Linked DNA regions of Homo sapiens. The protein of the gene in region 1 interacts with the protein of each later gene in a pairwise test. Each region holds a gene or a part of one and is shown on either strand. Other genes may lie near its edges.

Evidence for each region.
Region 2: the proteins of RESF1 (region 1) and TBC1D4 interact in a two-hybrid assay, tested with the Homo sapiens proteins (one large-scale study listed by IntAct).

What each region holds. Positions count from the first base shown.
Region 1 is NC_000012.12:31,976,200-31,980,234, reverse strand, and holds part of RESF1 (retroelement silencing factor 1), read right to left. Parts: intron 1-4,035. UniProt on the Homo sapiens protein: Plays a role in the regulation of imprinted gene expression, regulates repressive epigenetic modifications associated with SETDB1.
Region 2 is NC_000013.11:75,283,170-75,286,669, forward strand, and holds the end of TBC1D4 (TBC1 domain family member 4), read right to left. Parts: 3' UTR 334-3,500; downstream 1-333.

The DNA.
Region 1 (4,035 bases):
GAGGCTGATGCACAAGAATCACTTGAACCTGGGAGGTGGAGGATACAGTAAGCCAAGATCACACCACTGCACTCTAGTCTGGGTGACAGAGTGAAGACTCTGTTTCAAAAAAAAAAAAAAAAAAAAGGAAAAGAAAATTTCTGGCATAAGCAAACACTAATTCATAAATATCTTTTGTTATTCATAATGAACTCTGTATGCACATACCTGAGTCTATGCTACTAAGGTGACTTAAAGTGGGGGCCCCTAGATACCATCAGGATACAGCTGGTGGTCACCAGGAAAACCAAGTATTAGACGGTTGGAACTTTTAGTTCTAACCACTGACCTCCATAAAGTGGTGGGGGGAGCTGGAGATTGGACTCTATAAAAAGTCTTGGCTGGGTGTGGTGGCTCATGCCTGTAATCCCAGCAGTCTGTGAGGCTGAGGCAGGAAGATCTCTTGAGCCCAGGAGTTCAAGACCAGCCTGGGAAACATAGTGAAACCCTGTCTCTACTGAAAATTAAAAAAAAAAAAAAATTACCCCGTCATGGTGGTGCATGCCCGTAGTCCCAGCCACCTACTCAGAAAACAGAAGGCAGTGTAGGGAGGATCATCTGAGCCTGGGGGTTGAGGCTGCAGTGAGCCATGGTGGCACCACTCCACTCCAGCCTGGGTGACAGAGTAAGGCTGTTTTTTTTAAAAAACAAAACTCTTGAACATTGAGATGTGATGAGCCGAGCTTCTGGGCTGGTGAACAGAACACACTGAAGTGCTGGGAAGGTAGTGACCTCAGAGAAAGCATACCTTGTTTGCTTTATAGCCAGTTGGTCAGAAGTACAAACCTGGACTTGTGACTAGCTTCAAGTGGGGGCAGTCTTGTAGGACTGAGCCCTTTAACTTGTGGGTTCTGATGGTAACATCAGGTAGACAGTGTCAGAACTGAATCAAATCACAAGCCACCCAGTTGGTATGTGGAGAGAATTGGTCAGTTGGGAAAAAATTCCCACACATCTGGTGTCAGAAGTACTGTGGGGCCAGGTGCAGTGGCTCACGCCTGTAATCCCAGCATTTTGGGAGGCCAAGGTGGGCGGATCATGAGGTCAGGAGATCGAGACCATCCTGGCTAACACAGTGAAACCCCGTCTCTACTAAAAATACAAAAAATTAGCCAGGTGTGGTGGCAGGTGCCTGTAGTCCCAGCTACTCAGAAGGCTGAGGCAGGAGAATGGTGAGAACCCGGTAGGCGGAGCTTGCAGTGAGCCCAGATGGCGCCACTGCACTCCAGCCTGGGTGACAGAGCTAGACTCCGTTTCAAAAAAAAAAAAAAAAATCATGAGATCATTTCAAAAATCTAAGATAAGAATTTCTGACAAAATCAAATACTGCCGGGCACAGTGCCTCACACCTGTAATCCTGTAATCGCAGCACTTTGGGAGGCTGAGGCAGGGGTATCACGAGGTCAGGAGATGGAGACCATCCTGGCCAACACGGTGAAACCCCGGCCTCTACTAAATATACAAAAAAAAAAAAAAAAAAAAATTAGCTGGGTGTGGTGGCGGGCACCTGTAGTCCCAGCTACTCAGGAGGCTGAGGCAGGAGAATCACTTGAACCCAGGAGGTGGAGGTTGCAATGAGCTGAGATTGCGCCACTACACTCCAGCCTGGCGACAGAGCGAGAGCCCGTCTCAAAACAAAAAACAAAAAACAAAAAAAAACCCCAAATACCTACATATTTAAAAAATTATAAAGATGGAAACTTCTTTTGATAAATGGTAGCTAAAACAATTAAATAGTAACATGGAAGATGCCACTATCCCTCCATTAATCATTTTACTGGAGATCCTAGCTGGTATAAAGAAAAAAATATTAGGAGTATAAGCAGAGAGGAAAACACAAAACTGAGTATCAGATGTTATACAGAAAATCCAAAACTATGTAGAGATCTTTTTGTTTTACTGTTTATTACAATGCCCAAAAATAAGGTCAAAATGCAAGAATATTATCAGCAGTAATCTTTTAAAATACCATTAAAAAAATACTTAGAAAATGAAGGATGTGTCACATCTCTAACAAACAGCTGAGTGTAAAGATATGCCATGTTCAAATATTTGAAGACAGCATTAAAGATGCCAATAATCTCAAAATTTAGGTCAAGCGCAGTGGCTCTTGCCTGTAATCCCAGCACTTTGGGAGGCTGAGCTGGGCGACTGCTTGAGGTCAGAAGTTCAAGACCAGCCTGAACAACATGGTGAAATCCTGTCTCTACCAAAAATACAAAAAAAAAATTAGCCAGGTGTGCACACCTGTTGTCCCAGCTACTTGGAAGGCTGAGGTGGGAGGATTACTTGAGCCTGGGAGGTGGAGGTTGCAGTGAGCTGAGATTGCACCATTTGCACTCCAGCCTGGGCAGCAGAATGAGCTCTTGTCTCAAAAAAAAAAAAAAAAAAAAAGAAAGAAAGAAAAAGTAATTAAGAGTCAATACAATCCCAGTGGATTTTTTGATTTTTTGGGGTAACAAGCTTGATTATAAACTTTCCATGGAAATGCAAAACAAGCATGAATAGCGAAGACATACACACACTTTTATATATAGACACTTGTTTTATGACAAAGTTAGGAAAAAAGTTCTTTTCAATACATGAAGCTAGGTCAATTGGTTATCTATATGCCACGAATGAAAATAAGCCTTATCCAATTACACAGCAAGAGACATATACAAACAAATCAATCCCAGGTAGATTATCGTTTTAAAGTTTCCAGAAACAGGCCAGGCATGGTGGCCCACGCCTGTAAATCCCAGCACTTTGGGAGGCCGAGGCGGGCAGATCACCTGAGGTCAGAAGTTTGAGACCAACCTGACCAACATGGATGGTGAAGCCCCCGTCTCTACTAAAAATGCAAAAATTAGCCGGATGTGGTGGCACACACCTGTAATCCCAGCTACTCGTGAGGCTGAGGTAGGACAATCCCTTGAACCAGGGAGGCGGAGGTTGCAGTGAGCCGAGGTCGCACCACCGCACTCAAGCCTGGGCAACAAAAGCGAAACTCCATCTCAAAAAAACATGAGAATATCTTTATGCCCTCGGGATAGGGGAAGGTTCCTATAACAGGGCACAATGAACAATAAGAAAAAAGGTCCATAAAACGGACTGCATCAAAATTAATCACCACTGTTTATCAAAAAACACCATTAAGGAAGTGAAAAAGTAAAGTCACTCTCTAGAAGATTATATTCGCAATACATAGCAAAGAGATCATATCCAGCCTATATAGGGAATTACGTAAAAAGAAAAATGTAGACAACTCAATAAAAAATAAGCATGAAGCTTAATTAAACACTGTATGAGACACTACAGTTGATCCTTGAACGTGGCTTTGAAGTGCGTGGGTCCACTTATACGTGGATTTTCTTTTGTCTATGCTACCCTGGAGACAGCAAGACCAACCCCTTCTCTTCCCTCCTCCTCCGCCTAGTTAAGATAAATGTGATGAGGATAAACACCTTTATGATGATCCATTTCCACTTAATGAATAGTAAATATATTCTCTTATGATTTTGGTTTTTTTTTGAGATGGAGTCTCGCTCTGTCACCCAGACTGGAGTGCAGTGGTGCGATCTCGGCTCACTGCAACCTCTGCCTCCTGGGTTCAAGTGATTCTCCTGTCTCAGCCTCCCGAGCAGCAGGGATTACAGGGTCCCACCACCATGCCAGGCTAATTTTGTATTTTTAGTAGAGACAGGGTTTCACCATGTTGGCCAGGCTGGTCTCGAACTCCTGACCTTGTGATCCGCCGCACCCAATCCCTTATGATTTTCTTAATAAAATTTCCTTTTCTCAAGCTTATTCTAAGAATACAGCATATAATACATGTAACATACAAAATATGTGTTTATCAACTGTTTAATGTTACTGTTAAGGCTTCCACTGAACAGCATGCTATTGTTAATCAAGTTTTGGCGGAGTCAAAAGTTAAATGTGGATTTTTTTTACTGCACAAGAGTCAGTTATCCTAATTCCTATGTTATTCAATGGTCAACTATATTTAAATGG
Region 2 (3,500 bases), on another chromosome or scaffold:
AAAGTGGTGGAACCAAGACACAGATATAAAACTTCTCACCCTAAATCCCGTGCTTTTCTCATTATATCACAGCTAATGAGTAATATAATGAGAGTGTCACATCATGGTAGAAGGACTAAATACTTCATGCCATCAGATGGTAGATTTCTTACTCCTAATCTGGTACTGTGAAAAAATAATTGGTGAAATAGTGACAAAATGGGTAAAAGTCAACATGGATATTAAGAGACTGTACTATTAAGCCTACAGTGCCTCCTTCTCAAAATGCTTAACTACTACATTAAGCAAAAAATAGTTAAAAGTGTTAGTCCTAAAGTTAGCAAGAAGATACAGTGTATTTTTATTGGATTACAAATATACATGAGAATACTCCAAGAGATGCATATTTTATATAAAAACATTCATATCACATCCATCAGTAAATGTCCTTAATTCTTAATTATCTGCGTCCAGTTGGAAAATTTTGTATTTTCTTGTGGCTCTCTCTCCCTTGCTATCTATGAGGGGGCCTGGAAAATAAAAGGGTAGAATGCAAATCTGTCAATGTGGTTGCTTATATTTTTCTTTCAAAAGTCTCCATTGAGAAAGTAAGTTGAAAAATGGTAACAATGTACTTACATAAATGTCTCCTAAATTATCTTTGTTGTCTGACTCTATTAGGAAGAATTATTTGTGTAGCAATTTTAAGTAGGTACAATCCAAACCATGCAGATCTTTTTTGTTTGGTTGTTTGTTTTTCTTTTTTTTTGTCAAAGTCTCACTCTGTGGCCCAGGCTAGAGTGCAGTGGCATGATGGCTCACTGCAAGCTCACTGCAAGCTCCGCCTCCCAGGTTCAAACTATTCTCCAGCCTCCTATAAGTAGCAATATATGCCTCTCCTACTCTCCTGAGTAGCTGAGATTACAGATGCACACCACCACGCCTGGCTAATTTTTGTATTTTCCCTAGAGATGGGGTTTCACCATGCAGATCTTGTAAAGCAGCGGTCTTCAACCTTCTTGACACCAGGGACTGGTTTCATGGAAGACAATCTTTCCACAGACTGGTGGCAGGGGATGGTTTCAGGATGATTCAATGATTCAAGCACATTTATTGTGCACTTTATTTCTATTATTATTATTATATCCTCACCATATTATTATTATATACTCACCATAATGTAGAATTAGTGGGAACCCTGACTGTTTTCCTGCAACTAGACGATCCCATCTGGGGATGATGGGAGACAGTGACAGATCATCAGGCATTCGATTCTCTTAAGGAACACAAAACATAGATCTCCTGCATGCACAGTTCACAATAGGGTTTGCGCTCCTATGAGAATCTAATGCCGTGGCTGATCTGACAGGAGTCAGAGCTCAGGCAGTCATGCTTGCTCGCATGCCCACCACTGCTGTGCAGCCTGGTTCATAACAGGCCACAGACAGGTACCCAGGGACCCCTGCAGTAAAAGACTCTAACCAAGAGCTGCTTCTCTCCCGAAAAGTAACAGTATACGTCAAGAAAGCTGCAGCAATATATTTATTGCAAAGGAACTAGACATTACATTAACCTGATGAAGATGTAACGATGCATGAAGCATAACTGGTGCAACATTTTTTAAAAATCACAAATGAAAAAGAAAATTCATTTTCAAAAGAAAATATTGTATCCAAGTCAGCTTAATCTCTGAACACCATAATATAACTCTTAATGTTGATTCTAAACATCCAGGATAAAGTTTACTTTAAACTGAATAAAAGAAAGAAAAGGTTTCTTTCCGAACTTCCCCAACAGATTCCTTGGCTACCATCGGTGCATCACACCCATAAAGTAATTGTCATCAACAGACCGTAAAAAGAAAAAACCCCTCCTACAAATAGAGAAATTCTCAGGAAATCCAAGCAACAAATCAATTAGTAGCCCCCAATTGAATGGGGCAGACAGAATCAGCATTTTCTAGAACTTAGAAGTTACATTAACTTTATTAATAAGATTTTATTGTCTTTTAAGAAACTGTATGGATTCAAGGGCACACTGAGCTATAACAAGTCATTATATACACACTGGGTAACAGTGCGGAGGGGGTTTCAGATGTTTGTCATCTGTTCATCAAAGCTTTCTGAAACCCCTAGAGCTTTACTATTCTACTCTATAATACATTTTCACTGTGTATAACAAACTCCCTTTGAAGAAAATTACCCCAGATAATCCATCTGTGAAAATACAAGTACTGCAAAAAGCAGTGAGGATAAATACTTTTTGGAAAGGCAAAAATGCTGCATCAACTTTCAGAGGCACTATCATAGAATCATCTCTGAAAAAGAGAACTGCAAATGTACTTTGAAAATTACTTTCCTTGCCTATACCCAGCATGCGTGAATGTCATCTAATGAGCTATTTGTAGGCTGAGGAAGTGAAGAGTTGAAATGCAGAATTGCAGGTTTTAGTTGAGCTGGTAACACTGGTACCACTTTCTTTTTTCCCTTCCAATGGATTTCAACAGTTTGTTCCTAAACATTTCACAGTTCTCAAAACTTTTCACATAAAAGGGGAAGATTATTAAAGCTTATTAGATTCTGTCAATTGGTCAAAAGAAAAAATGTATTTCAACACAGCTTGTCATCTTTGGAAAAAATCAATCATAATTACGTTTCCTTATACTGAATTTAAGGTAGAGAGACCTAAATTACAAGCACTCACAATTTGGTGGGAAAGTGGCAAATCCTTGTCATTTGGTGACTGTGGCACCAAATAAAGAGGAATTCATTCACAACTGAATGAGTTATTCAAATAAAAAAAGCAGAAAGCTAATCTAGACATTTTAGGTCCTAAATTAAATTTTTCAGGTGTGATATTTTTAGTTTGAGTAATAATGCTGGTCTAGTTTGCTAAAAAATTAGCAACATTCTCCTTTACCTTGAGCTGGGTAGACTCAGCCACAATGTCCTACTGTCTCTTTATGTATGTTTAAAGTAATGCCTAACCAGACTCATAATGCATGTAGATGCAACATGCTAGTTGGCACAAAGCAGGCAGGGAGAAATGACCCTACCTTCCCAAAAAACTCACAGGAGCATGACCAGTAATCATTTTCCTCATATAGACAATGTCAGTAGATATCAAGACAGATACACATAAAGTTACATAAATGTTTCCACCTTTTCACCATTGAGTGAAACATGCTGTTCTTTGGAGAAAAAAATACATTCATTTTTTTCAAGTATATTGCAATATACAAAGATGCTCTGGCTTTGTTTCACTATAAAGACAAAAAGATTTCACATATGTCCAAGGGAAATTTCAGTTTACCTTTCCTTTGGTGTGGATTTCATGAAGTTCTGACTAAAAAAATTAATCTAAATATACATCTACTCATTTTATCTGAAAGCATGAACTATGTTCATTTTATATATATATTTATATGTACATAGCAACAACAAAAACCAGTCTACATATGTCCAATGGCTTAGGATTGGCATGCTCTGATGAGCACGAGGTCCACCTGCTGTGACTAGGCG